7 separate regions of the Homo sapiens genome follow, and all the other regions are linked to region 5. The links come from fine-mapping of genetic effects on gene expression. A gene starts in region 5. Each other region holds a variant in brackets. All regions are shown on one strand. Distances are between the middles of the regions. Region 1 holds the start of TYSND1 (trypsin like peroxisomal matrix peptidase 1). Region 2 has its middle 9.4 kb from the start of SAR1A. Region 3 overlaps LRRC20 (leucine rich repeat containing 20). Region 4 overlaps LRRC20 (leucine rich repeat containing 20). Region 5 holds the start of PPA1 (inorganic pyrophosphatase 1). Region 6 overlaps NPFFR1 (neuropeptide FF receptor 1). Region 7 overlaps LRRC20 (leucine rich repeat containing 20).

Region 1 (4,000 bases), 87 kb before region 5:
TTTATTTAGTCTTCACGACCCTATAAACTAGGCACTGGCATTATCTCCATTTTAGGTGGTATAACTGAGGCCCAGAGACGCTCAGTAACATTCCCAACACCAAACAAAGTGGGAGGAGCCAAGGCAAACACAACACTTTCCTTCACTGCCTCGTTGATACCCACAACAATCCCGTCAGTTGGTGGGTCAGATATGACATGGTTTCACTCCTCTGGGTCCCTATTTACGTACACGCTAACACTTCTGTAGCACACGACGTGACAGGCTCCGTTCCACGACATTCAGCGTCAACTCCCGGGGAGGCAGCTTAGACAGGTTAAGTGACTTGCCCGGGATCAGACAGGGGCGTCCTACTACACACTCTGCAGGGGTAGCTTCCAACAGACCTGGCAGTCTCCTTAGGAGCAAGGGGCATGTGGGGGGAGTGGAAGGAATCTGGTGGGGGCCACACACCATAGGCAAACCTTCATCATCAGTCTTCCCTATAAAGTCATGGCTGTCCTATAGGCCACAGTGGGGACACCTATGGCAAAACTGGGCAGTGTTACCCACACCTGGCTAAGCTTGGGGATTCAGGAAGAGATTTGGAAAAGCCTGGGCTGCAAGGCTGGGCTGAACCATGTACAGCTGCGTGGGCCACCCCCCTACCTTCTGATTACGTAGAAACTCACGTTTCACTCAGACGGGAAGCTCTGGCTAAGCACTAAAAGATGGATAAAATTAACATACCCATCTCCTTACCCCAGGAGAGCACCATCCTGGGCCTCTGGGACCTTATCACTTTCAGAGGAGAAGCAGCAGGGTTAGGGAATCTCTGTTCAAAGGGCCAGAGAACCGAGGGGTATGGCGTGCAGGGCTATCAGACAGTGAAGCTGCCCAGAAGAAACTCAGCCTTTGAGGGGAGCTCAAAGATGCCCTGTTCCGGATTCAGGGTGTCCCACAGTACCCAAATCCAGAGCTGCTTCGAGCTTGACACCTTGCCCCAGATTCTCCCCACAGGGGTTCTGGGTATAAAGGATGAGGGGAGGGTTCCAGGTCTCTACCCACTACACGCCCAAAGCATCCGCGTGACACAAGAAAGGCCTGCACAATACTCAAGAGTATTAGGGCTGGACCCAGATCTGAGACCTGGAAAGGGATGAAGTGGCGTCAGCCCTGCGGGCTTACTTGGGGGTGGTGGAGCGCACCAGGACCCTGGCTGCTTCCCGAGGGGACACGTGCCGACAGGTCACTACAAGGCGGGGTGCCACAGCCACTCCGGAGCCCCATACGGTGCCGCACTCCACCAACACTGCCGCGGCTGCCCACAGGGGCCCGGAGTCTCGGAGGGGCAGACCCCACGGGACGCCCACCTCTGGCGGCAGAAGGGCGGCCAGGGCAGCGGTGCTGTGCGGCAGGCGGTGAAGCGCGTCGCGGGCGGCGCGGAAAAGGGGGGCGGCGGCGCAGAGCAGCGTGAAGCCCACCCATTCGCCGGCCTTCCAACAGAGCGGCGCCACCACCAGCGCCACCAGCGCCCCCGCGGGCCGCGCGGTGAACACGCCGCCGCCCTCGGTGCCGGGCAGGCAGCGTGCGTCGGTAAGCAGCAGTGGGCCGGCCACGTTGCTGAGCACCCCGCAGCTCAGCGTGTTGAGAAAGATGTCGGGGCAGAAGGCGCCGAAAGGGGAGCCGCAGACCAGCAATGGCGCACCCTTGGGCACGGCCCCGAGAGGCGACACCGCCATGGCTGGCCCGCGCTCCTCCTCCACCTCCTCCTGGCCTAGCCGCACGCCCAGCAGCGCAAACCAGCCCAGCGCTCTCAGTTGATCCGCCTCCTCGTCCTCCGACACTTCGTCATCCCGCGCCGCGCTCGAGAAGCGCCACTGTTCCGCTGCCTCGTCCCCGAAGAGGCGCGCGAAGTGGGCCCAGAAGGCCGGGCAGCTCAGCAGCAGCAGCAGCTCAGCAGGAAGCCGGGGCTGCAGGGGACGCCCGCGGGACGGGGCAGGTGGGCCGGGCTCG[A/G]GGCTCGCGCACTGGGGCGTGCACAGCCCTGGGCGGCCCCGCTCCGCGCCGCCCCCGGGACCCGCGGCCGTTGGGGCCCACTGCACGTGCAGGCGCAGGTCGTCCCTGCAACTGTCGCCAGGCAGGAAGACGGCGCCGGCCGCGGTCAGGACTTCGCTGCCAGCTCGCAGGAAGGGGACGAAGATGCCCCCGTGGCAAAGCACCAGGCCCGGGCTACGGCTCAGGATTACCCCGCTGCAGCTCCACGGGCCCGCCTCGGGCTGTCCGGCCCGGGAGGCGCTCACCATGCAGCCCGCCTGCTCGGCCGCCCTCATGGCAGACCCCCACTGCCTTCTCATGGCCTCTAGGCCGGACACTCGGGAGCTTCTCCGAGAAACAGCAAGCTAGCGAGCGAGGACCCCTACCCGGTCCGGCTGAAGCTGCCTAGCGCCACCCACAGCTGGAAGCGAGAGGCGCAAGCTCTGACTCACGTCTTCCTCATCGAGCCCGATTGGCTAAGCCCCAATTGACCCGACCCGATTGGCTGGGCTTGTACCGAGCTCTGATTGGCTTCCTATTCTGATTTTTTTTTTCCTTTCCCCGCCCTCGTTAGTTTGTCCAACCGGTGGGACATAATCTGCCCCATTCCCCCGGATGAGCCCCGGGGAGAGTAAGAGGAGTGCGGCGTCACGAGGAATCAGAGGAGAGGAGGGTGGGTCCCTTCAAGCCTAGTCTCGTTTGCTGGAATGTGGGAAAGGGAATAGAAATGAGCGCTGACGTGCCTAGATTTGCCCAGGCCACGACAGTACCTGTGAGCATCTGCCCAGGTCTAGGCGACCTTCAGCCTCTGACCCTTGGGATAATATGGACCAAGGAAATCCTTGGCCAATTCAGTGTTTTGAAAATTTAAAAGTAAACCCTATAGCAATCCACTAGGGGGCATGGAACTCTCAAGATTACTCCTAGGATTTTTTTTTGCTGCCAAAGCCCCAACACAAATCTCCGAGAAACTGGATTTGCTGTAAATTAAATTGCCCTTTAAATCGACTATGAACAGTAGCTGAAATCAAAAATTTTAATCATACAGGCCTATATTTTACAGTGTGCACATTTCACATAACATAACCACCAGCCAGGATTTATCTAGGCCAGGGTCCAAATACTTTCTGTAGAAGGCCAGAATGGAAACAGTTCCAGTTTGGGGGGACCATACAACTTGTCTCAAATAGTCAACTCTGCAGCTGTTGCATACAAAAGCTAAAGGAATGGCGGTGGCTGTGTCCCAATAAAAAGATACAGACATTGAAATTTTAATTTCATACAATTTTTTGTGTCCAAAAATAGCATTCTTTAAATATTTTTTCCAACCATTTAAATATGTAAAAACCTTTCTTTGCTCACAGGCCATACAAACACAGGCAGCAGGCCCGATTTGACCCACAAGGCATAGTTTACCATCTCTAGTGTACACTAACATAAACTGCTCTACTTTTCCAAAGAAGTACGCTTTAGGACAGAGGAGGATGAACGAGTATGTCGGGGAGTGGGGGGGCGCGGAGCTTCATGATACCCTCAATCAGTCACCACAAGCTAGACAGTTTACAAAGGTCTGCTTTATCACTGAATTGATAAAATACACATTATTTTTTATTTATTTATTTATTTTTTTGAGACGGAGTCTCGCTCTGTCGCCCAGGCTGGAGTGCAATGGTGCGATCTCCGCTCACTGCAAACTCCGCCTCCTGGGTTCACGCTATTCTCCTGCCTCAGCCTCCCCAGTCGCTGGGACTACAGGCGCCTGCCACCACGCCCAGCTAATTTTTTGTATTTTTAGTAGAGACGGGGTTTCACCGTGTTAGCCAGGATGGTCTCGATCTCCTGACCTTGTGATCCGCCCGCCTCGGCCTCCCAAAGTGCTGGGATTACAGGCGTGAGCCACCGTACCCGGCCATCATTAATTTTTATTAAGGTTACTGTATTGCTTACCATATACAATTGCTACTTAAATTCTCTAATCTTTCTGCCT
Region 2 (4,201 bases), 53 kb before region 5:
GCCATCTCACCTAGCTGGCCCCCTAGTTTTAATGGCCCAACTGGAAGACTTTCTTACCCCTCAGAGGCTTTTGGACCCTGCTTTAAGAATCACCACACTGGGCCAGGTGCAGTGGCTCACGTCTGTAATCCCAGCACTTTGGGAGGTTGAGGCAGGCAGCTCACTTGAGCTCAGAAGTTCAAGACTAGCCTGGGCGACATGACAAAACCCAATCTTTACAAAAAACACAAAAATTAGCTGGGTGTGGTGGTGTGCACCTTGCAGTACCAGCTACTCGGGAAGCTAAGGTAGGAGGATGGCTTGAGCCCGGGAGGTGGAGGTTGCAGTGAGCTGGGATCACTCCACTGAACTCCAGCCTGGGCGACAGAGCCAGACCCCATCTCAAAATAAATACATAAATAAATAAATAAATAACTACACTGCTTTGTAGTCTCCTTTACTGCTCCTATGGTGCCACCCAATAAATAGCTGAGAAGATGAAGGTGTCCAAATGGCGTGTCATACCATGGCTACTCCAGTATTTATAGAGCAGTCATACACTCAAGAAATACACTTGAATATTTTCTGATAAGAAGAGTTTAAGGGTAAAAAGTGGATATGTTATCAAACAGCATTCCACATAACTAACATTCCTTAAAATTCTTCCGTACCCATTACAGAAATAAAACCATATTCCTTTCTAATTTTAAAAACTCTTGATGCCTCTTCAGGGCCTCTTTAAAGTCCAGGATCTCCTTAGCAGGGGAGCACAGAGCCTTTGTTAAGCATGAGGCTCCTGCTTCTTTTCTTGCCTGCCCTTCTTCTGTTCTCCAACTTGTACCCAATGTCCCAGCTTTCTAGAATACACTAGGGTTCTGGAACATATCACATGGAGTGGATTAAGCATTCGTGTTCAACAGTACATCCCTATTATCTTTATACCAGTTTAAAAGAATTAGGTATACTGACAAAGTAATAACATGAGATTTCAAAATGTATACAAAGTATAATCTTATGCCTCTTCAAAAAACACACACACAAAATTATACTTTTACATATGTTCAAATATGTGTATAAAGACATAGAGAAAAATCTAGAGAGATTTTTATCAAACTGATAACAGTGTTTATAAGAAGGGAGTGGGATTAACAGCAATCAAGATAGAATTTTTTTATCTGTATTTTTGAAATTTTTAAAAATGTATTTTAATCTTTTGTAGAGGTGAGTTCTCACTATATTGCACAGGATGGTCTCGAACTCCTGGGCTCAGGGGATCCTCCCATCTCGGCCTCCATAACTGCTGGGATTACAAGCATGAGCCACTATACCTGGCTGAAATTTTTTAACATACTAGTATTTGTGTAATTTAAAAAATAAACAGGCTGGGCACGGTGGCTCATGCCTGTAATCCCAGCACTTTGGGAGGCCGAGGCAGGTGGATCCTGAGGTCAAAAGATAGAGACCGTCCTGGCCAACATGGTGAAACCGCATCTCTACTAAAATACAAAAATCAGCTGGGCATGGTGGCACACGCCTATAGTCCCAGCTACTTGGGAGTCTGAGGCAGGAGAATCGCTTGAACCCAGGAGGCAGAGGTTGCGGTGAGCCAAGATTGCGTCACTGCACTCCAGCCTGATGACAGAGCAGGACTCTGTCTAAATAAATACATAAATAAAACAATAGTGAATACATGACACGATGCATTTGTCAAAAGCCATAGTCCATTATAGGACAAAGATTGAACTTTAACATATGCAAATTTTAAAAAATCCTTTAGAGATCAGGGGATCCTAGAAAAGATGCAGAATCTGAGAAAAAAAAACTATATTATAAATGTATGAACAACCTTACTGAAGCAGGTAGGCAGAAAAGGTGCTGAACTAAGTCACTTTGGAAATGACTGAAGTCTGTAAGACTAAAGGCAAAAGGAATACACATAAACACTATATTCCAGTTGATCAGGTTGTTTCCCACAGGGTTTGTAAAGGCCAACAATTTGGAAACCATTATAAAATTTGGAAACCCCTATGTATACTGGAATTTACCAATTAAGCAAATGGATGGTGGATGATGGGAGCAGGTGAAAACTCACTGTTGGAGTGTGAGGTTATAGATAAGCGAGGAGAGAAGAGGCTACAATGATCCATGTAGTAATGGATTGGAGTTGGAGATATCAGTATGAATTCATGCTTAGTGTGATATAGACAGAAATGTATTTATAGATATGTTTATATATATGTCAATATACACATATATATTTCCTTGCTATGTCAGCTGAGAAGGCATAGAAACAACAACAACTCAGTAGCAGTGAGCACCCTAGTGCCCAGATCTTGGTTTCTAATACCATTCTCCAAGGAAAGGAACCAGGGCTTCTTGGGAAAATGACTGATTCTAGGGCTGGGGCAGGGAATATACAAGATGAGCCTGGAACACCTTGTGCCAAAAAGTATAGAAGTATCCCCATATCCAAAAAACACCCAGAATGAGGGGATCAATGAGACAAGCAACTGAAAGAGCTCCCAG[C/T]GGCCAAAGCTGGCATAATTTAAGCAACAAAATAAATTTTAAAATAGCTTTGGATTAGAACCTAAAGTATAAGATAGATATCCATGAGTCCATATGGACATAAATAAATAATTGACTGAATAGATAGCTGGGCATGCTGGCTCACATGTGTAATCCCAGCATTTTGGGAGTCCAAGGTAGGAGGACTGCTTGAGGCCAGGAGTTTGAGAAAGCCTGGGCAACACAGCAAGATCCCATGACTACAAAAAACTTAAAAAATTAGCCAGGCATGATGGTGTGAACCTGTAGTCCTAGCTAGTCTGGAGGCTGAGTTGAGAGGATTGCTTGAGCCCAAGAGGTCCAGGCTGCAGTTAGCTATAATCAGGGCACTGCACTCCAGCCTAGGTGACAAAGCAAGACCCTGTCTCAAAAACAAAGAAACAATAAATAGATAAATGAAGAAGAACAGACATATCTTCCATGGAGAAGAATTCCAAATAATTAAGGTAAATAGTCTACCCTCAAGGAGGTGGAGTGTAACTCCCCATCATGTCTGGGCTACACACAGTGACATCCTTCTAAAGAGAACAGTGTGGAAAGGGGATGAGGGGGAGAATATAATTACAGCAGAGAAACATGACAATCACAATCTCAGCCAGGTGATGAAGTTTAACACCTCCAGTGATATGCCATGTTGATAGTACATGCCCTTCATATGATATGATGAGAATATCACTTTATTCGTATGATCTTCCTCCTCCCAACACATATCCCCAGTCTAATCATGAGAAAAATATCAGACAAATCTCAACTGAGAGATGTTCTATAAAATACCTGACCATACTCCTCAAAGATAGAGTCATCAAAAATGAGGAAAGCGGCCAGGTGCGCTGGCTCACGCCTGTAATCCCAGCACTTTGGGAGACCAAGGCGGGTGGATCGCCTGAGGTCAGGATTTCAAGACCAGCCCGGCCAACATAGTGAAACCCCCTCTCTACTAAATACAAAAAATTAGCCAGGCATGGTGGCACATGACTGTAATCCCAGCTACTTGGGAGGCTGAGGCAGGAGAATCGCTTGAACCCAGGAGCGGAGGTTGCAGTGAGCCAAAATTGTGCCATTGCACACTCTAGCCTGGGCAACAAGAGTGAAACTCTGTCTCAAAAAAAAAAAAAAGGAAAGTCTAAGAAATAGTAACCACTAAGAAGAAAATAGGAGATAGGACAACTAAATATAGTATGGTATCTCAGCCTGGCACAGTAGCTCATGCCTGTAATCCCAGCAGTTTGGGAGGCTGAGGCGGGCAGATCACCTGAGGTCAGGAGTTCGAGACCAACCTGACCAACATGGTGAAACTCCATCTCTACTAAAAATACAAAATTAGCCAGGTGTGGTGGCATACACCTATAATCCCAGCTACTTGGGAGGCTGAGGCAAAATAATCACTTGAACCCAGGAGGCGGAGGTTGCAGTGAGCCAAAGATTGTGCCATTGCACTACAGCCTGGGTGACACAGCAAGACTCCATCTCAAATAAATAAATAGAGTATGGTATCTCAACACATTAAAAGACATTAGGTAAAAAACTAAGGAAATCTGGGTCAGGTGCAGTGGCTCACGCCTGTAATTCCAGCACTTTGGGAGACCAAGGCGGGTGGATCACCTGAGGTCAGGAGTTCGAGACCAGCCTGACTAACATGGAGAAACCCCATCTCTAC
Region 3 (4,201 bases), 69 kb after region 5:
GGGCACTGAGTTGGCTTGCTCCACAGATGAGGAGAAGGTGGGAGGTAGATACCTGAGGACCAAGCAGTCAAGGTTCTTCAAGCCACAGGCGTTCTCGGGAAGCAAGAGCCCCAGGCCCTCTCCTGGTAGGGGACCAACCATCCCCACTTGCTGGGTACTGTCCCAGTTTTAGCATTGAAAGTTCCATGTCCTGGGAAACCAGGACAGCTGGTCACCCTGTTGCCTGACCATACCCTAAGATGCCAGGTTGAGGGCCTCAGAAGAACCAGGTCATCAGGGCTTTGGGCGTTGGCCTGGGAGCTGGCTGGCTACAAATCCCGTGGTCCACATCGCCTTCTGCCCCCAGGAGGCCATGACAAGGCAGCCAGGCTGCTGCTGGACTGGACAGTGGTGAGGGTGGCCATCTAATCACTTTAGACAAGAGCTGCAGGTGTAACTGACTCTGCTGTTCTCTGGGCCACCTCTCCCGCAGCTCAGGAGTGATGCTAGAGGGACGGAGCACTCAGGACTTCCCACCCCGCCAATTTGTTAACTGTGGGGAATGACAGAGCTGACGTGACTTGCTCCCCATTCCCAGCCTGCTGGTCCTCGGGCTCCTACATGAATGTTCTTGCCCTGCAGCAGTGCCAGCCCATATTCCCACCACAGCTCTCCCAGGACTCCTAGTTCAGGTTCCCACCAGTCCAGGGACCACAGGACTGAAGACTGGGCCCTGCAGAGGGCCGCATCCAGGTCAGTTCTCAGGAAGCAATAAATAGATGGAGGTTGTCTTCTCTTCTCAGGGCAGCAACTGGCTCTCAGCACTAAAAACAAGGCCTCAAACCCGCAGGGGCTCAGAAAATACCTGGCAATGCCCACCTGTGCCTGCTGATCTGGAGGTAACTTGGAGGCACGTACTGCTTAAAAACCTCCAGGGAGCCCAAAGGAGGGAAAGGGTCCTGTTTTTTTCAAGTGACAAGGCTCAGAGAGGGCAGGAGATCTGCCTGAGTTTGCACAGCAGCTGTGAGTGCCGAGTCCAGGCTGCAGGCCCCACCTTGCCTCTTCCCTTGGGCATTCCAGAGCCCACTACTGCTGTAAGCTATCTATCCAGACCAGCTGCACCCCACCCACCACGTGCTGCTCGGCCCACCCGCCCCCAGCCCCCAGGCTTGGCCTCCCATGGGCCTCCCTCCCTTCCAGGGTTCCAGGCCTGTGGCCTCTGCCCCTTGCTGGGTGGGCATGAGGAGGGTGGCCTAAGGTAGGGGGGCTCTTGCGCCTTCCGGAGACATGAGCATGTCAAACTTGATGAGCGGCGGGGCGATCACGCGCACCTCGGCGTTGAGTGGGTTGAAGCGGAGGTTGATGCTGCGCAAGGCTGGCATGGCGGCCAGCTTCTCCACGGGCACATCTATTGGGGACAGAATGGACAGGTTAGAGTGGTGGAGGCCAACCAGACAGAAAAGAAGGACAATGGGCCATGAGGACTCTGAGCACCTGATGGTGAGGGGCAGCTCTCCATTGCCCACTGCACGTGGGCTCAGCTCCTGGTGCCCAGCCCTGTGCAAAGGGCCATCGGGCCCACCAGGATATAACAACCACATGGAGGAAAGCATCCTTAAAAATAAGAATCAACTGCTTCAAAAAGTTAAACGTAGGATTGCCATACAACCCAGCAATTTTACTCCTAGGTAGAACTGAAAGAATTAAAAACAGGCATTCAAACAAATAATTTTACACAAATGTTCATAGCAGCACTATTTATAATAGTCAAATGTCCACCAATAGATGAATGGATAAACAATATGATATATACTATGTTGTCCATATATATGTCCATATATATATGATATATGGAATACTATGTAGCCTTTTAAAGGAACGCAATTCCGATACAGGTTACAACATGAATGAACCTTGAAAACATTGTGCTAGGCCAGTCGTGGTGGCTCACGCCTGTAATCCCAGCACTTTGGGAGGGTGAGGCGGGTGGATCACGAGGTCAGGATTTCAAGACCTGCCTGGCCAAGCTGGTGAAACCCCATCTCTACTAAAAATACAAAAACATTAGCCGGGCATGGTGGTGGGTGCTTGTAATCCCAGCTACTTGGGAGGCTGTGGCAGAGAATTGCTTGAACCCACGAGGCGGAGGTTGCAGTGAGGGGAAATCGCACCACTGCACTCCAGCCTGGGCGACAAAGCAAAGCTCTGTCTCAAAAAAAAAAGAGAAAATATTGTGCTAAAGAAAGAAGGCAGGCACAAAAAGACAAATACCGTATGACTCCACTTATGTGAGGTACATAGAGTAGTTGAATTCATAGAAACAGAAAGTAGAACAGAGGTTCCCAGGGGCTAGGAGAAGGGGAA[G/T]TAGGGATTTATTGCTTAATAGCTACAGTTTCTGTTGGAGTGATGAAAATATTTTGGAAATAGATAGCGGTGATGGTTGCGCAACATGGTGAAAGTAATTAATGCCACTGAGCTACAGTATGCTTAAAAATGGTTAAAATCAGCCAGGCTATAGTCTCAGCTAGTCAGGAGGCTGAGGCAGGAGAATCTCTTGAGCCCAGGAGTTCAAAGTCAGGATGGGCAACATAGTGAGACCCCAGTCTCTATTTCTTTTTTTTTTTTTTTGAGACGGAGTTTCGCTCTGTCGCCCAGGCTGGAGTGCAGTGGCGCGATCTCGACTCACTGCAAGCTCCGCCTCCCAGGTTCACGCCATTCTCCTGCCTCAGCCTCCCGTGTAGCTGGGACTACAGGCGCGCGCCACCATGCCCAGCTAATTTTTTGTATTTTTAGTAGAGACGGGGTTTCACCGTGTTAGCCAGGATGGTCTCGATCTCCTGACCTCGTGATCCGCCCGTCTCGGCCTCCCAAAGTGCTGGGATTACAGGCGTGAGCCACTGCGCCCGGCCCTCTATTTCTTAAAAGAAAAAAAAAAGGTTAAAATGGCACATTTTGTTATATATATTTTATCACAATTAAAAAATAATGTAATATGCCAAAACCACCGAATTGCATATATTAAATGGGTGAATTGTATAGTATGTGTCAATAAAACTATTAAAAAACAAAGACTATTATGTGCATAAAGAATATTTTTGCCAAGAGAGAGGAAGTCGCATACAGTGGCCTATGGAAATTCTTCTTAACTATGGGAATGCCACTCTATCATGCCATCTGCTCCATCATACCCCTAAAGAGTCCCTAAAGAAGCAGACATGACTATCTTGGGTCTATCTAAGGGAGGTTAGTTACAGTTTGAATTTATCAGGACTCCTGATAATGTGCCCTACCTATATCACTGCTCCATAAGAGCTATCTGGGAAGTTCCAGACTATATTGGATCATCACTATGCTGGATCATCACTTAGAGATGGAATGTCCTCTGGAATCAAAACAAACATATCTCCTGTCCCAGCTCTAGTTTCCAAAATTTAACGTGTAGAATTTGGAAATCAAGTTTCAAGCTGTCATCCACCTAACTTACATAAGATACTAGGGCATTTTCCAACACTCATCAAAAATGCCACAGTGTAATAAATATAAAGATAGTAGTGATCTATAATTAATTCCAGGTCCAATATTCTCAGTTATAACTGAAGACGCAGCACAGCCTAGTGTCATAGACATGAAATTTAAGACAGCCCTAAGCTGATGCCCCAGCTTTACCACCTAAAAATTTGTATTACTTCCCGTACCTTGTTTTCCTAATCTTGAAAATGGACATAACTAATATTTCCTCAAACAGAATTAAATTGGGGAGCAACTGCTTAAAGGATATGGGGACTCCTTTGGGGTGACAGAAGTATTTTGGAATTAGATAGAGGTGATGATTGCACAACACTGTGAATGTCCTCAATGCCAATGAATTATACACTTTATGTGGTTAATTTAAGTGGTTAATTTTATGTTATGTGAATTTCGCCTCAGTTTTTTTTTTAAAGGACCAGAATAAGGCAGCAGCTATACTAACACTTGGTAACCTGTTATAGTTCCTCCCACCTAACCTTTAGGATCACTCAGACAACACTAGGACGCTTGCCCTCGACGCGTGCCCTGTGCAAGCTGAGGCTCTGGCTGCATCCGCTCTTCCCCGATCCAATTCCGTGAGCAGCCGGATCCCAGAAAACCTCCCACCCTAGCACAGGACGGGGCCAGACCTCATCCCATGCAGTCCGACACAACCTCAGGCCGATAGTGATGGCAAGAGCCAGCTCCTGTCCTC
Region 4 (4,201 bases), 140 kb after region 5:
ACTACAGGTGCATGCCACCACGCCTAGCTAAGTTTTTGTATTTTAGTAGAGATGGGGTTTCACCGTGTTGCCCAGGCTGGTCTCGAACTCCTGGCCTCAGGCAATCTGCCCGCCTCAGCGTCCCAAAGTTCTAGGATTACAGGTGTGAGCTACCGTGCCCGGCCTGAATCTGCATTTTTAACCAGTACTCCTACAATCCTGATGTTGGTTACCCAGGACCTACCCTTCAGAAAATCCTGCAGGAGTGAAGGAACTGACAGAGGGACATTTGCCCATGAAAGCAGTCCATGGGGGCTGTCCCCATTGTTTCTTTAACTCAAGACAGCCTAACAATGATGTAAATCTTAAATACAAAGGTAGATGTTCACCTCTGCTTTTTTTCCTCCTTTTCAAGGAACAGGGTGGGCTCACTGTGGTTCCAAGAAGACCTGGGAGGAGAGGCAGGTGTGTGGGTGGGAGAAGGCGGGAAGAGGGAGGTTCACATCATTGGCCTCGCTTAGTTCTCTCAGCCCTCCTCCTCATCCCCACCCCCATCCCTCGGGGCAGGCAGCAGGGTGGATGGGGAAAAGCAGGGCTGTGCCCTAGGCTGACCTATGAACTCTGCTCCCACTCCAAACAGCTGTGTCACCAGCAGGTCACCTACACTCAGCCTAGCTCCAGCAGCTATAAAACAGAGGAAAACTACTGCAAAAGCAAAGCAGGAGAGGAGGGAAGTTGAATACCCTTGTACAACAAAACACTTAAAAACATCAGATAAAATACTTGAACCTGGGAGGCAGAGATTGCCGTGAGCCGAGATGGTGTCACTGCACTCCAGCGCCTGGGTGACAGAGTAAGACGCTGTCTCAAAAAAAAAAAAAAAAAAAAAAAAAAAACCATACATACACACTGGATAAAAGATGTTTCTCACACCTTTCTTTCCTCATCTGTAAAATGGGAGTATTAACATCACCTTTGTCATAGGGTTGTCATGGGGAATTAAATGAGTTAAAACCAGCAAACTGTTTACCACGATGCCTGGCATTTAATAAGGGCAAGTCCAAAAGATCAAAAATAGAGAATCTGAATCCCAGCACTTTGGGAGACCGAAACAGGTGGATCACTTGAGGTCAGGAGTTCGAGACCAGCCTGGGCAACATGGCGAAACCCCATCTCTGCTAAATATACAAAAGTTAGCTGGGCATGGTGGCAGGTGCCCAGCTAATTTTTGGGGATAGCTGAGGCAGGAGAATCACTTGAACCTGAGAAGTGGAGGCTCTAATGAGCCAAATCTACTACTTGATAATAAAAAATAATAAAATAATAAAAATCTACTACCTGATAAGACAACAAGCAGTTTAGTCTTTGCCTGGGCACTGAATTGTTAAAAAACAAAAATCTCCACTAAGATTCTGAAATCACAGACCTGTTAATACTTAGGATTTGAATATTCACAGCCCTTAATTCATATACAGAAGCCCTCAGGGCTGAGACATTAACAGAAGACGTGCTTCTAGGCTGGTCACACTCAGGCACCTGACCAAAGCAATCACGACCCCTCCAGAGGACACAGCCCTGCGACCCAGGATTACACAGATGATAGTTCACCAGACAGGAGCACAGGGTCCAAATTATTATATTATATAAAGTCCACCCAGAATAACCTACTGTGAGCAAGAGTCAGCAGGAACAACAGACTGAAACCCTCAAGAATGTCCTGTTACAGAAAAAGCAGGCCAGGCATGGTGGCTCAAGCCTGTAATCCTAGCACTTCGGGAGGCTGAGGCTGGGAGTTCAAGACTAGCCTGGCTAACATGATGAAACCCTGTCTATACTAAAAGTACAAAAATTAAAAATTAACCAGGTGTGGCGGCACACACCTGTAACCCCAGCTACTTGGGAGGCTGAGGCAGGAGAATTGCTCGAACCCAGGAGGTGGAGGTTACAGTGAGCCGAGATCACACCACTGCACTCCAGCCTAGGCAACAGAGTGGGACTCCATTTCAAAAAAAAGAAAAAGCAGTAAAGATTTAAAACAAGTATAGGCTGAGACAAGAGGATAGCTTGAGGCCAGGAGTTTGAGAACAGCCTAG[GCAACA/G]CAGTGAGACCCCATCTCTACAAAATATTTTAAAAATTAGTCGGTGTAGTAGCAAGTGCCTGTAGTCTCAACTACTTGGAAGGCTGAGGTGGGAGGATCACTTGAGCCCAGGAATTCAAGGCTGCAGGGAACTATGATTGCGCCACTGCACTCCAGCCTGGGTGACAGAGCAAGACCTTGTTTCTAAAATGATTAAAGAAATAAAAAATAGAGCATAAGAAAGAAATAAGATTATTCCCTTAAATCAGATTTTTTTTTTCAGTAAGAAGCAAAAGATTTATTGGATCTGAAGAGAAACTAGAGTATATTATATCAGATTTTTTAAATAGAACTTTTTCTCGCCCAGGCTGGAGTGCAGTGGCCCGATCATGGCTCACCGCAGCCTCAACCTCCAGGACTCATGCAATCCTCTCGCCTCAACCTCCCAAAGTAGCTGACACTACAGGTGTGTGCCACTGCACCTGGCTAATTTTTTAAATTTTATTTTTGGTAGAGACAGGGTCTCTACCAAAAATATAAGCAGTTAACATGTATTGAGTACCTGCTGTGTACTAGGTGCCTGGGGGCTCCCAGGGATGTGTGTAGTAGAGTCTCGGGCCTCAGGCCTTTTCAAATCCTGCTCCTCTGTGTCACGATTATTCTTTAAAAGCCAGTCCCCATGCACACTGCAGAGCCAGGAGCCTAAGACCCGGAGAGGAGCGGGGTGCAGGGAAGCCTGGCCCCACAACCACAGGCTGGAGGGAAGGGTGGGGTCAGACTAAGGCCCCTCAGCGGTCCAGGACCCACGGAAACCCAGATGGAAAAGGGGCAGGGAAAGAGAGCCTGGCTCAGGGGAAGCAGACTACCTAAGGGGCAGTTTGCAACTCTGCATGCTCCTTAGAAACATCGAGAAGATGATGCTGAGGAGGGGTGAGAGACTGGGAGGAAAGCAGCTTCAACTCAAGCTGAGGGCCTCCCAGGGGCCAAATGGAAAGGAGCCCACGTCTCTGGGGATGGAGAAGCCTGGAGTGGAGTGAGAAAGGCTGGGATCCTCGCCTCGAGTTACAGGAGGAAGCAGGCCTGGCTCCAGCTCTAGCCAGGGGTGCCCCAGGAGCACTGGGGGAGCATGTGAAGTGCTTACCAGGGTTACTTGGCTGAGTAAGGTGAGAGCAAGCCTGTAACTGAGCTCTTCCAGCCCAGTCTCTACAGGGGATCTCCCACTCTGCAGCAGCACCTGTGGCTCTGGAGCACCACCCCGGGAGGGAACCCAGCAGGACGGGAAAAGCCAGGGAAGCCTATGTCTCCTCCCAGGGGCCTCGGCTTTGAGAATGAGCTACCCCTGAACTCTCATCTGTTGTCAAGATGTGTGTTTTATTTCCACAGTGGCAGGTGGTCCTTTCCCTAAAATCTGTTCCCTAATTTTAAGAGTAATACGTTCATTATAGAACATTTAGAAAATGCAAAATAGTATTTTCTAACTCCCATTTCCATATTGGTTATTTCCTTCCATTTTCTTTCCTACATATATGCACAGGTTTAACATAATTCGTACCTTACCCTACATACAGTTTGGCATTCTTGATGTTTTCCAGTTCACGTTATATATGAGAATGTGCCAATCCTTCTTTTCGTTTTTTTTTTTTTTGAGATGGAGTCTCACTCTGTCACCCAGGCTGGAGTCCAGTGGCGCAATCTCAGCTCACTGCAGGCTCCACCTCCCAGGTTCACACCATTCTCCTGCCTCAGCCTCCCGAGTAGCTGGGACTACAGGTGCCCGCCACCACGCCCGGCTAATTTTTTTGTATTTTTAGTAGAGATGGGGTTTCACCATGTTAGCCAGGATGGTTTCGATCTCCTGACCTTGTGATCCGCCCGCCTCGGCCACCCAAAGTGCTGGGATTAAAGGTGTGAGCCACTGCGCCCGGCCGAGAATGTGCCAGTCTTTATTTAATCATACAATGAAATATTACGCTCCATTGTTGATGCTACATAAATAGCATTATATAGGCCGGGTGTGGTGGCTCATGCCTATAATCCCAGCACTTTAGGAGGCTGAGGCAGGTAGATCGCTTGAGGCCAGGTGTTCGAGACCAGCTTGGCCAACATGGCAAAACCCCATCTCTACTAAAAAAAAAAAAAAAATAG
Region 5 (4,201 bases):
ATAATTTCTATTATATTCTAGATATATATTACTAATATATTCTAGAGGCCTAACTATAGCCAAAAAGTAATTTTAAAACTTCTTCAGTATTCTTTAGGAAACCTACTGTCCACATCGCATCCCTTCAAGTTTAAAAATCAAAGTGGAGGCCAGGCACGGTGGCTCACGCCTGTAATCCCAGCACTTTGGAAGGCCAAAGCAGGTGGATCACTGGAGGTAAGGAGTTCAAGACCAGCCTGGCCAACATGGTGAAACCCCGTCTCTACTAAAAATACAAAAATTAGTCAGGCATGGTGGCAAGTGCCTGTAATCCCAGCTACTTGGGAGGCTGAGGCAGGAGAATCACTTGAACCCGGGAGGCTGAAGTTGCAATGAGCCAAGATCATGCCACTGCACTCCAGCCTGGGCAACAGAGCGAGACTTTGTTTCAAAAAACAAACAATAAAACATAAAAGTCCCTTTAGGGCCAATTGTGACTTTGCAGTCTGTCCAGCCCTTTATCAGTTTTAAAGAAATTGACAAATGTAATATTATAAAGCTTAAAAAAGTTTATTTCTATTAAGGAAGGATAAAGCACTTAAAATTGGATAACTATGTAGTGGGTTCTAATTATTAGTATTTCTTAAGTTCCAGAGAGTTCCACTTGATAAAAACAGTTACTTCAGCTAGTGCCAAATTCTAGGAGTAGCTTTGGTCTCCCATAACGGCCACCAAATATTAATTGCAAATAAATAACCTAAGTAAAAGCAGTGTGTTTGTTCTGCATATATAGCTTGAAGATCCACCCCTCACCTTCAAACCAGACAGTCACCTCTGTAAGCCTTTCCTACAGAGAAATTCTGGAGCCAACACTATTTCCAGAAAAACAGTCCCATGAATTATTAGTCAAAAGTTACTGGACTGTCCTTGCTGCTTAATTGCAAAATTAAATAAAATGGAGAGTGGGGGGTAGTTCTCACCCTTCCTGGATTTTACCTGATAGTTAACCTTTGGCTAGATGTGTAAGCTTTACAGTTCGCTTTCCTTTTCCTCCCGCACCAGGCTACTTTTTGTTCCTTCAATGCCTATTCATTCGTCTCCTCTACTCCCCGCTTCCCCTTCCTTCATACACCAACTCAGAGTTCGAGGCACCTGCCCATTTCCTTCCAAATAAAACTGTAAAGAGGTTACAATAGAAGCGCCTGTGGTGACACATTTACGAACGCCTCCGTTATCGCCCATAATCTACTCCTAGTAGCTGGGGGTGGGGGGAGTAAGAGGATAAAGAAAAACCCCAAGTAGCTTTCCTCCACCTACAAGGCCAAAAAAACGTGGTGCCCTAAGGAGCGTGGAGGGCGCCAGCATGCAGCCTCCCGGTTTCCCCGTGCAGCCCTAGGTGCAGGACCCGGGGTAGGTACCCCCTAGACGCCGAATCCTGCAAAGGTAAAAACTTGGCACTTTCTCAGTCTTGTTTCCAGACTGACGTCATCTGTTTGATTTGAGGGAAACAGCTTTCTGTTTCATAAGGAGCATTCCCAGCATCGGCGCTGAGGGAAAACAGGCGGCGCAGAGGCAGGAGCACGACCGGGCCGCGGAGGACCGGTCCAGCGCCTTCACAGACGGCTCCCGATCCGGGCCTCAGTTTTCCCGTCTGTAAAACGAGGGGGTGGACTTGGCTCCGCTCAGCGCCGATAATCTGAGCTACGGCGGCGGAATTAAGGTCTTTAGGAAGTCACTGCCCCCCCCGGCCCGGAGTCGCCTTTTCTCCAAACTGAGCAATCCTCTTACGGGAATTATGTTACTTCCAAGCACCTTTCTAGGGTGGGTCGGTGATTTCCTTTTCCCAACAGACCCTGTCAGAGCCAGACACCTGCAAAACTAGCTGGGCCCAGGTTCGGGTACCCCGAGGCGTGACAAAGGGACCATCTCCGTTCAGCGGGGAGGGATGGCCGGAGGCGACCCTCGCCGCCCCGACCGGCGGCGGCAAGTATGCAATGTGAGGCCGGCCAGGCCCCACAACGCGCCCGAGGAGACGGGCCCGCGTCGGAGACCTGGGGCCGAGCGCGGGCCGCACCCTCCCGGGGAGGCAAGGCCCGGGAATGAATGGGCGGACGGGCGCGGAGGGGCCACGGGCCGCAGACACTCACTGAGGAAGACTCGGTACTCCAGGGAGAAGGGCGCGGCGCGCTCCTCGGTGCTGAAGCCGCTCATAGTGCCGGAGTCCTGCCGCCGCCGCTGCCACAGAGCCACCAGCCCGCACGCGGCGCCGACTGACAAGGAGAGAGCCCCACGCCTGCGCACTGCGAGCACTGGACCGGCGGGCGGGGCGGGGAGCGCCTTTAACGCGGCTCTGCTAGTGTTCCCACCCCCGCCGGGCCAACCCCGTGCGCAGGCGCACTCCGCCAGGCCCGGGTGTCCGCACTCCCCAGCCCCGCCCCTCGGGCCCAGCCTCCGCGATGGCAGCTAGGGCTCAGAGGCTGGGCCACGTGGCTGCCGCCGGCGCTGGTTCTGTTCCTTCGGCTTTGGGCTCTGACCCGGGAGGGCAAATGCGCAGGCTCTAAGCTTGGACTAGCTAGGAGTTGACCGCCGACCACGCACACAGGGAACTCACCTTTGATTCTCACACACTCCTCCCCGCAGTCCTATTCCTTATCTCAAAAGGCGTTGATAAGTCACCTGCTTCCCCAGACAGGCTCTGCTTGCGGTCTTAAAGGTGAGCATTTTTCTGATCCGTCGTAACAAAGTTGAGCCATATTACTGACACCCCTAGTGGCTACTAGTAAGGTACTCGCTTCTCCACTTTCTATAATCTCTCTCACTCCGTTGCTTATCTGGGAAGTGAAGATAATAATATAACTATTTCATGAGTTACTGGGATGATTACCCGAGTTAATACACGTCAAATGCCTGAAGCAGAGCCTGTATCTTTGTAAACAATCTGGAAGTTGTTACTGTCACCCTCCCCAGTGGGGGAGGATTTACGCCCCCGCGCCCCCCGCCCCCTCCATCCCCCCTGCCACCCTACTTAACCCACCTGGGTCTCCAGGGGCTTCAGATGGAAGCACTGGGAAGGTCCAGGCGTGAGCTAGAGTCCCGTGAAGGAGTGTTCTCAGGGACAGGCTCTTCTGATCTTGATTTCCTGTTTATATTCCATCATATCAGGCCAGACCCCAAAAACTAAAGTCTGATTGAGGCAGTGGGAAAATATTTGCATCACTTACCTCCCCAGGAATACATGTAAAAGAAAAAAAGTATATCCACAATCCTAAATATAAATTAGCAAATTATTATTCACATTTCAAAGAATGCCTGGTTTTATTTATTTATTTATTTTAATTTCATGGCCAGGATTTCTTTAAATAACTTTTTCTAGAACATTAAAGATAATGTGCCTTAATGACATTTTGAATTAAACCCTTTTTTCCAAACAATGTCTATTGTAAAAAATGAATATTAAATGAAAACCTAGTAAGATCTCCAGTTAGTTATGGTGTCGCTCCCTTTGTCTCCATCCAACTCCCAAACCTCACTGACACCCATTAATTTTCAGAAGGCTGTGATTCACTGATTTTTTGAACATTTCACCACACTGTTTTACTGCTGTTAAAACAGAAGGGCAGGAAAAAAAATTAGCGAAGCAATAGTTTAGTCAATAATTAGGGTCAAGGCCAGGCGCGGTGACTTACGCCTTCAATCCCAGCACTTTGGGAGGCCGAGGTGGGCGGATTACCCGACGTCAGGAGTTGGAAACCAGCCTGGCCAACACAGTGAAACCCTGTCCCTAGTAAAAATACAAAAATTAGCTGGGCGTGGTTGCACGCGCCTGTAATCCCAGCTACTCGGGAGACTGAGGCAGGAGAACACTTGATCCCGAGAGGCGGAGGTTGCGGTGAGTTGAGATCACGCCAGTGCATTCCAGCCTGGGTGACAGAGCGAGACTCTGTTTCAGAAAAAAAAGTAGGATCAAGTTCAAAGAATATTTTAAGGGGATGCTCTTTTGATTGAACTGCTCTATCACTTTTCTGCCTTTGAGCAGATGGAACCAATTTTCTTGGAAAAACCCAGACTCTCATCTGTGACTGACTTAAGAAGACAGCAGTGATGCAATAATAATGTTCTACATACACTTTCCCTTTGCCTCCTGCCAGCTCAGAGCAAGATAATAAAGTCTCACTGACCTCCAGACTTGCACACTGGCTCTTGTTTCATCGAATGTATTCAG
Region 6 (4,193 bases), 24 kb after region 5:
GCCCGGGGCCTGGCAGAGCTTGCGCGCGATGCGGGCGTACATGACCACGATGAGCGCCAGCGGCGCCAGGTAGATGTGCGAGAAGAGCACAGTGGTGTAGACCCTGCGCATGCCCTTCTCGGGCCAGGCCTCCCAGCAGGAGTAGAGCGGGTAGGAGCGGTTGCGGGCGTCCACCATGAAGTGGTGCTCCTCACGGGTGACGGTCAGCGTGACGGCCGAGGGACACATGATGAGCAGCGCCAGGGCCCAGATGACGGCGATGGTGACGAGCGCCTTCCGCAGGGTCAGCTTCTCGCGGAAAGGGTGCACGATGCAGCGGAACCTGCCGCGGGGAGAGAGACAGGCGGGATCTGGGTGGGTCCTAGGGCCCCTGCGAGGGGACGGTGGGTGGGATGCGGGCACCTGACCTTCATCATCGCATCTAGGGCGGCGTCGAAGAACAGCTCAGACCTGAATTGGCTGAGTAGTCAAAGAACAAAGGCAGCTACAGGATTTATGAGAAGGGAGGAGGAAACCGCAGATCGTGTGGGAACAATGAATCCTGTGTGCACTTTTGCACTTTTCTCCTTTTTTTTTTTTTTTTCCTGAGACAGGGCCTCCTTCTGTCGCCCAGTCTGGAGTGCAGTGGCGCGATTACGGCTCCCTGCAGTCTCCACCTCCCGGGCTCAAGTGATCCTCTCCTCCCACCTCAGCCTCCTGAGTAGCTGGAACCACAGGAATGCGCTGCCACCTCGCCGGCTAATTTCTTTCAATTTTTGGAGAGATGAGGTCTCACTGTGTTGCCCAGGCTAGTCTCAAAGTCTTGGGCTCAAGCTATCCTCCGGCCTCGGCCTCCCGAATTTCTGGGATTATAGATATGAGCCTCCTTGCGGGGCCATTTGTGTACTTTTGGGGGTCAACTGATTAGCTGGCAGCTAGCAGAGCGATCAGAGTGCGCAGTCTGTCCTCGACAAGGACGATTAGGTGCGTCAAATAACACAGTTTCTGTTTATGGATTCTCCAGAAAACCTCAGGAGGTCAGATGTAGAGCCTACATGTCAGGCTGTCCCTATGTCATCTTGGCCATAGTATCAGTATCTCTACAATGCAAGGACAAGTCTGCACCATTTATTTCCTCATGAGGACAACTCAGCATCTGTTATTACACCCTTTATTATTTTTTAAAGGTGAGGCCTTTAAGATAGTTACTACACTGTTGATTTACAGACAAGGAAACTGGGACTCGAGTGTTAAGCAGTTGGCTCAAGTTCACATAGCAAGTTGCAAGGACCAGTCTTGAACCCAGATTTGTCTTGCTTCATATGCCATATAAACCAGTAGCTGTAAACCCTCCATGTGCATGAGACTCTCCTGAAGCATTTCAACAACAAAGACAAAACCCGTGCCTATTTTTTCAGGCCAAGGATTCCAACCTAATTAGTCTAGAAAGTGGTTTTAGCATTATTTGTTATGTGCTGTTTTTGTTTTTAAAGCTCCTGGGGTCAGGTGCCATGGTTCATGCTTATAATCCCAGCACTTTGGGAGGCCAAGGCAGGAGGATCACTTGAACCCAGGAGTTGGAGACCAGCCTGGGAAACATGGTGAAACCCCATCTCTACCAAAAAAATTAACCAGATGAGGGGATGCTTGCCTATTCTTCCAGCTACACAGGAGGCTGAGGCAGGATAATCACTTGAGTCCAGGAGTGTAGGGAAAAGAAAGAGAAATCAGACTGTTATTGTGTCTGTGTAGAAAGGGAAGACATAAGAGACTCCATTTTGAAAAAGACTTGTACTTTAAACAATTGCTTTGCTGAGATGTTGTTAATTTGTAGCTTTGCCCCAGCCACTTTGCCCCAGCCATTTTGACCCAACCTGGAGCTCACAAAAACATGTGTTGTATGAAATCAAGGTTTAAGGGATCTAGGGCTGTGCAGGACATGCCTTGTTAACAAAATGTTTACAAACAGTATACTTGGTAAAAGTCATCGCCATTCTCTAGTGTCAATAAACTAGGGGCACAATGCACTGCGGAAAGCCGCGGGGACCTCTGCCCTTGAAAGCAGGGTATTGTCCAAAGTTTCTCCCCATATGATAGTCTGAAATATGGCCTCATGGGATGAGAAAGACCTGACCGTCCCCCAGCCCAACACCTGTAAAGGGTCTGTGCTGAGGTGGATTAGTAAAAGAGGAAAGCCTCTTGCAGTTGAGATAGAGGAAGGCCACTGTCTCCTGCCTGCCCCTGGGAACTGAATGTCTCAGTATAAAACCCTATTGTACATTTGTTCAGTTCTGAGATGAGAGAAAAACCACCCTATGGTGGGAGGTGAGACATGTTTGCAGCAGTGCTGCCTTGTTATTCTTTACTCCACTGAGATGTTTGGGTGGAGAGAAACATAAATCTGGCTTACGTGCACGTCCAGTCACAGTACCTTCCCTTGAACTTAATTATGACATAGATTCTATTGCTCACA[G/T]GTTTGTTACTGACCTTCTCCTTATTATCACCCTGCCCTCCTACTACATTCCTTTCTGCTGAAATAATGAAAATAATAATAAATAAAAACTGAGGGAACTCAGAGACCGGTGCCGGCGCAGGTCCTTGGTATGCAGAGCACCGGTCACCTGGGCCCACTGTTGTTTCTCTATACTTTGTCTCTGCGTCTTATTTCTCTTTCTCAGTCTCTCATCCCACCCGACTTGAAATACCCACAGGTGTGGAGAGGCAGGCCACCCCTTCACAGGAGGTTGAGGCTGAGACTGCAGTGAGCCATGATCAGACCACTGCACTCCAGCCAAGGCAATAGAGCAAGACCTTGTCTCCAAAAAAAAAAAAAGCTCCTGGAGAAGTCTACTGTGCAACCAGAGTTGAAAACAGCTGCTGTAGGGGGAGGTAAAAACCTCCCCCTGCAGCATGGTTCAAAGACGATTGCTCAACTGCAAGCTCTGTGAGGGCAGATGCCTTGACTTTTCATCTCAGTATTCCTAGGTTGTGATTAGATAAATGCATGAATGACCAGAGGGGAAGTTACTCAAAATACTTTCTGAGCCTTAGTTTCCTCATCTGTAAAATGAAGCCCATAGTATGACCTACTCTGTTGGGTAGTTGTGAAGATTAAGTGAGATGACACTGACCACACTTCTTGAGACATTTCAAATGCTTAATAGTGAGGAAAAAGGAGGGGCTCCTATTCCCCAGAATGGCTTCTGTCATCTACTGATGCCAGAAAATAGAAACCTGAAGAATGTCCAGTCAATCTTACTTGTTTAATGGAGGGGAAAGCTTGCCCAGTGGGGGTCTTATGGTCACATGGCTGTTTGGAGTCAGAGCCTGCCCTGGAACATAGGTCTAGAGCTGACTCTCAGTCAAGTGTCCTTTCCACTTCGCTACACTGTGTCCTGCCCTCCTGCCAACCCAGTTTTTGGCCTGATAGCCTGACCTTTTACCTCTCCCACAGCCTGACTCAGGCCTTGTTATCTCAACCTATATGACTTTGACCTACTGGCTTCATACTTCACATACTCAAGAAAGCTCCAGAGAATAGTGGCTTATGTCAGCACTTTGGGAGGCTGAGGAGGGTGGATCACTTGAGGACAGGAGTTCGAGACCAGCCTGGCCAACATGGTGAAACCCTTCTCTACTAAAAAGACAAAAATTAGCCATGCATGGTGGTGCGCACCTGCAATCCCAGCTACTCCGGGGACTGAGGCACGAGAATGGCTTGAACCCGGGAGGCAGAGGTTGCAGTCAGCCAAGATCGCCATGGCACTCCAGCCTGGGTGACAGAGCAAGACTCTGTCTCCCCCCTCAAAAAAAAAAAAGAAAGAAAGAAAGAAAAAGAAATCTCCAGAGAATAAATAATTCTTAAAGCCTGTAGTGCTGGCTATGAATGCAATAGCAGTAAATGGGTGGAGGAGAATCTTGGGGTAATCTGGGCAGGCTTCCTGGATGAGGTGGGACTTGAAGAATACTGCAAACACCACTGGGAGAAGTTGTACACTCTCATTTCCTTCAACAATGATAACAAAACAAAGGTCGATGAAGGGAAGGGACTTCTCCTGATCACCCAGCTAGTTAGTGGCCTTGTGGAGAGTAGAACCCACTTCATTACTCCAGCTGCCTACTTCACTGAGTTACAAAAAACTGGGCTTGAGGTGGAGAGAGGATGTGAACACTAGATTCCACAAAGGGCAGGGTTAAGATATGCCTGTGCTGGG
Region 7 (4,201 bases), 120 kb after region 5:
AAAGTGCCTGCTGCTTGCAATTAGTGATCTCAGCTTGTCATGCATTAACTCAGTTAACCCCCACAACATCACAACATCCCCATGAGACAGGCACTATTTTGTATTTTTTATTTTTTTGAGACAGAGTCTCACTCTGTCACCCAGGCTGGAGTGCAGTGGTGTAATCTCGGCTCACTGCAACCTCCGCCTCCTGGGTTCAAGTGAGTCTCCTGCCTCAGCCTCCTGAGTAGCTGGGACTACAGGCATGCACCACCACGCCCAACTAATTTTTGTATTTTTAGTAGAGAAGGGGTTTCACCATGTTGGCCAGGCTGGTCTCGAACTCCTGACCTCAGATGATCCATGAGATGGGCACTATTATTACTATTCCTGTTGTACAGAGGAGGAATCAAGACACAGAGCCAGGAGTCTTGGTTAGTAAGCTGCTGAGCTTAAGGGTTTGCTCCTAACCACCATGCTACACTGCCTCCCTAGAATATGTAACCCGCATTCAGGACAGCCTGCCATGCTGAAACAGATTGGGAGGTGGTGGGTTTCCAATGAGCAGATAGATCTTCCATGATTTACAATGGGTTCCCTGGGAACACTAGTATATTGCAGTTCCCATGGAACTATATAAAAGGGGACTTAGAGTTGAAAGAGCTGGTGAAAGAGTCATCAGGGTATCAACAGCCTGGATTTGTCACTTACTGTCTGTGGGACCTTGGGTCCTTATGCCCTTAGTTTTCAAATCTTGGTAAATTGCAACTGATCATCTCCAAGGCCCCTTGCAGCTGCCACTGTGGATTCTAGGACTTGGCCACAACCAGGAGCCACCTTGGGAGCTCTATAGACTCTTGATGCCTAAGTCTCTCTCCCAGAGAGTCTGATTTAATTAGTGGGGGCTGGGGCTTGGGAATGGAAGGGAGGGTAAAAGCTCCCTGGGTGACTCTAACGTGCAGCCAGGTGAACTCTGCACCATACCATCACCTCTCAAACTAAAGTGTGACACCTGGGGACACTGCCAACGTGCAGATTCTGATGCCACATGTCTAGGTGGGGCGTAAGAGTCTGCATTTCCACCCAGCAGGTCCAAGGACCACACTAAGTAGCAAGGGCTACTCCAGTGCAGTGGTTCTCCAAGGGCATCAGCATCACCCACAGCATTAGCATCACCCCAGAACTTGTCAGAAAGGCACATTCTCAGGCACCACCCCAGTCCCACAGAATCAGAAACTCTGGGGGTAAGGCCCAGGCATCTGTGTTTTAGCTGAAGCATCACTGGCCTAGAGGGGCCAGGCCTCCTCCTGATGTAGCTGCTTCCTGTATTGATGATGATAATGGGGTGGTAATGACAGTAACTGAGTGCTGGCTGCTCCTGCCTGCCTAAGGGCATGAGGTTTACACGCTCATGGAAATTTTTTGTGCCCTGGGTTCCTCCTGCTTCCCCTCTGAGCAGACTATTTCAGGACAGAGCAGCAGAGACAGAGTCTCTTCACTCTCTTCTCTCGCTTTGTTCATGCTTCTGGTACTCAGAGGCACACGTGACCCTCGGTGTGGAGGCCGCCCTGGGCTGTAACTCAGGAGGCCTAATTCTTATCCCAGCCCCTCCACTATCAGCCAGGGGGAGCTCAGAGACACTACTTCTTCATGGGCCTTGTCCCCTCATCTGTAAAATGAGGGTTTGGACTAGATGATTTGGGGTCTCAACCAGACCAGACATCCTCTGACTCCATGATTCTACTAAACAAAGGCTCTTCAGACAGCCCTCTGTCAAACAGGAGCCCCCCATGACTTGAGCTGCCAGTCTCTGAAATGTCACTCAATTTCCAAAGTAGGGACACACAGGATGCAGACAGCGAGCAAAACAACTGCTCATCAAGGGATCGTGCCGTGCATCACTGGGCACAATTAGGCATCACTTTAACAAAGCTGTTTGTTGTAGTGCTTACAGAGCTGGCTGGCTCTAAAAGGCTTAAGACAAAAAGCAGCCGGACTTGCTCCCTCTTGACAAATCCCCTCCCCCAGGGACAACCACTTTCAGGTCTTTGGGGGTGTTTTACTCCCGATCTCTAGAGCAATGTTTCTGAGCCTGTTTCCTGTCTCATGCCCCTTATAGAGAAAAGGGCATGGGAGGAAGAGCTCACCGAGGACCACATACGTCCAGAAAGTCCCACCGCAATAGCACACACAGCTACTGGGCCCGGGAGGGTTGTCGGGAAGAGAAGGGCAGAAAGGCACTTCGGGAAGG[C/T]GCGTCTTCTGAGACGTGGGGAAACCACTCAACTTGAAAGTGCCAGTGGGTTTAGGGGGATTTTTTTCTTTCACTTCCTATTTCATGGACTTGTATATTGTGCAAGAGTTTTACAAGCACTTAATGACTTCTTACAAATATCTCCAGTTTAAAGAAAGGAACATCCCCAACATGCAGTGACCCTTGGGGTATGTTTTTCCTCAAACGCCCAAAAACCTGGATCAGTGGAGATGGGTGTTGATGGGGACATAGGGAACAGAGCTAAAGTCCTGCCAGGGCAAAGCTCACGGGAGCTGCTGGGGAGAGCAGCCGCACGCTCAGAGGGCTGTGTGGACACCCCTCTGACAAACGCACACACGAATCCTGCATCTCAGAGGTGCCTTCTCACGTCCTGCTGCAGAAGCCCCTGCCTCTCTAGGAAATAATGTGCTACAGAGAGTTGGCCTCAGAGAAGAAAGCTGAGCATGAGGCCCTCCAGCCAGTGGCTATCATACTCAGTCAGAATAACTTCTAACCACACAAGAGACCTAGAAAGCAATATCTTCTTCTCAGAATCCAAATTGAATCCTTTCTTGGGCCAACTCTTTCTTGCTGTGGGACCTCAGGCAAGTTACTTAACTCCAATCTCAGTTTCTTCTTCAGTAAAGTGAGGACAAGAGCTCTTTCAAAAACCTGTATGCAATCTGGGCATGGTGGCTCACGCCCGTAACCCAAGCACTTTGGGAGGCCAAGGTGGGAGGATCACTTAAGTTCAAGAGTTCAAGACCATCCTGGGCAACACAGTAAAACCCTGGTTCTATAAAAAATACAAAAAGTAGCTGGGTGTGGTAGTGCATGCCTGTAGTCCCAGCTAGCTACTTGGGAGGCTGTGGTGGGAGGATCGCTTGAGCTTGGGAGGCAGAGGTTGCAGTGAGCCAAGATCATGCCACTGCACCCCAGCCTGGGCAACAGAGCCAGACCTTTTGAGACTTTGTCTCAAAAAAATAAAAACAAATAAATAAAGTTTTAAAACCTGTATGTAGTGCTGGGCAGAGTAGCTCACACCTGTAATCCCAGCACTTTGGGAGGCCGAGGCGGGCAGATCACGAGGTTAGGAGTTTGAGACCAGCCTGGCCAATATGGTGAAACCCCGTCTCTACTAAAAATACAAAAATTAGCAGGGTGTGGTGGCAGGTGCCTGTAGTCACAGCTACTCAGGAGGCTGAGGCAGAAGAATTGCTTGAACCCAGGAGGCGGAGGTTGCAGTGAGCCAAGATCGCGCCACTGCACTCCAGCCTGGGCAACAGAATGAGACTCCACCTCAAAACAAAACAAAACAAAAAACAAAGCAAAACAAAAAAAAACACCTGTATATAAATGTTCACAGCAGCATTTTCACAATAGTTGAAAAGTGGAGACAATCCAAATGTCCATCAGCTGATGAACAGATAAAGGACATGTCATATATCCATTCAATGGAATATTATTCAGCCATAAAAAGGAATGAAATCCTGACATGGGCTGCAACATGAATGAACCTTGAAAACATTTTGCTATGTGAAGGAAGCCAGTCACAAAAGGACAAATGTTGCATGATTCCATTTACATAAAATGTCCAGAAGAGGCAATCTATAGAGACAGAAAGTAGACTGGTAATGGCCTGGGGCTGGGCGGAGATCAGGAAATGGGAAAGGACTCCGCATGGTACAGGGTTTCTTTTTTGGGTGATGAAAATGGCTTAGAATTAGACAGCAGTGATGGTTATACAATCTTGTGAATATACAAATAAATACTGCATTGTATATTTTAAAATGTAAACGTTACAGTATTTGAATATACCTCAAAAAGAAATGAGGACAACAGGATCCAACGAACAGGTGGTTCTGAGCATGAAATAAAACGTCTGCAAGGCTCTTAGCACAGTGCCTGGCAGGTAGTTTGTGCTCAGTAAGTAAGAGATGCTGCTATGAGGATGCAAAAGTATTACTTTTA

What was found.
Region 1: its variant is fine-mapped to the expression of PPA1 in lung (TOPMed, PIP above 0.99).
Region 2: its variant is fine-mapped to the expression of PPA1 in lung (TOPMed, PIP above 0.99). The same link has a PIP of 0.9 or more in tibial artery.
Region 3: its variant is fine-mapped to the expression of PPA1 in whole blood (TOPMed, PIP above 0.99).
Region 4: its variant is fine-mapped to the expression of PPA1 in whole blood (INTERVAL, PIP above 0.99). The same link has a PIP of 0.9 or more in monocytes.
Region 6: its variant is fine-mapped to the expression of PPA1 in adrenal gland (GTEx, PIP above 0.99). The same link has a PIP of 0.9 or more in ovary.
Region 7: its variant is fine-mapped to the expression of PPA1 in blood mononuclear cells (TOPMed, PIP above 0.99). The same link has a PIP of 0.9 or more in monocytes and whole blood.

Annotation. Positions count from the first base shown.
Region 1 is chr10:70,144,254-70,148,253 of GRCh38, forward strand. TYSND1 (trypsin like peroxisomal matrix peptidase 1) reads right to left here and starts at 2,447. Exons shown (of 4, transcript NM_173555.4): 1 at 1,168-2,447. The coding sequence starts at 2,333. It overlaps SAR1A (secretion associated Ras related GTPase 1A), which reads right to left. Exons shown (of 7, transcript NM_020150.5): 7 at 3,036-4,000. RefSeq lists silencers at 1,349-1,578, 1,909-2,218 and an enhancer at 1,709-1,758. The variant A/G (reference allele first, on the strand shown) is at 1,996.
Region 2 is chr10:70,177,821-70,182,021 of GRCh38, forward strand. No RefSeq gene overlaps it. Among named protein-coding and RNA genes, the nearest start is that of SAR1A, 9.4 kb to the left of the region's middle. The variant C/T (reference allele first, on the strand shown) is at 2,506.
Region 3 is chr10:70,300,122-70,304,322 of GRCh38, forward strand. It overlaps LRRC20 (leucine rich repeat containing 20), which reads right to left. Exons shown (of 5, transcript NM_001278212.2): 5 at 1-1,387. The coding sequence ends at 1,233. Among named protein-coding and RNA genes, the nearest start is that of NPFFR1, 18 kb to the left of the region's middle. The variant G/T (reference allele first, on the strand shown) is at 2,344.
Region 4 is chr10:70,368,759-70,372,959 of GRCh38, forward strand. The region is part of intron 2 of LRRC20 (leucine rich repeat containing 20); the gene reads right to left. Among named protein-coding and RNA genes, the nearest start is that of LRRC20, 12 kb to the right of the region's middle. RefSeq lists an enhancer at 142-643. The variant GCAACA/G (reference allele first, on the strand shown) is at 2,073.
Region 5 is chr10:70,231,138-70,235,338 of GRCh38, forward strand. PPA1 (inorganic pyrophosphatase 1) reads right to left here and starts at 2,292. Exons shown (of 11, transcript NM_021129.4): 1 at 2,127-2,292. The coding sequence starts at 2,190. RefSeq lists a silencer at 1,934-2,503.
Region 6 is chr10:70,255,506-70,259,698 of GRCh38, forward strand. It overlaps NPFFR1 (neuropeptide FF receptor 1), which reads right to left. Exons shown (of 4, transcript NM_022146.5): 4 at 1-322. Among named protein-coding and RNA genes, the nearest start is that of PPA1, 24 kb to the left of the region's middle. The variant G/T (reference allele first, on the strand shown) is at 2,453.
Region 7 is chr10:70,353,319-70,357,519 of GRCh38, forward strand. All of the region lies in intron 2 of LRRC20 (leucine rich repeat containing 20), which reads right to left. Among named protein-coding and RNA genes, the nearest start is that of LRRC20, 27 kb to the right of the region's middle. RefSeq lists enhancers at 2,028-2,127, 2,348-2,557. The variant C/T (reference allele first, on the strand shown) is at 2,231.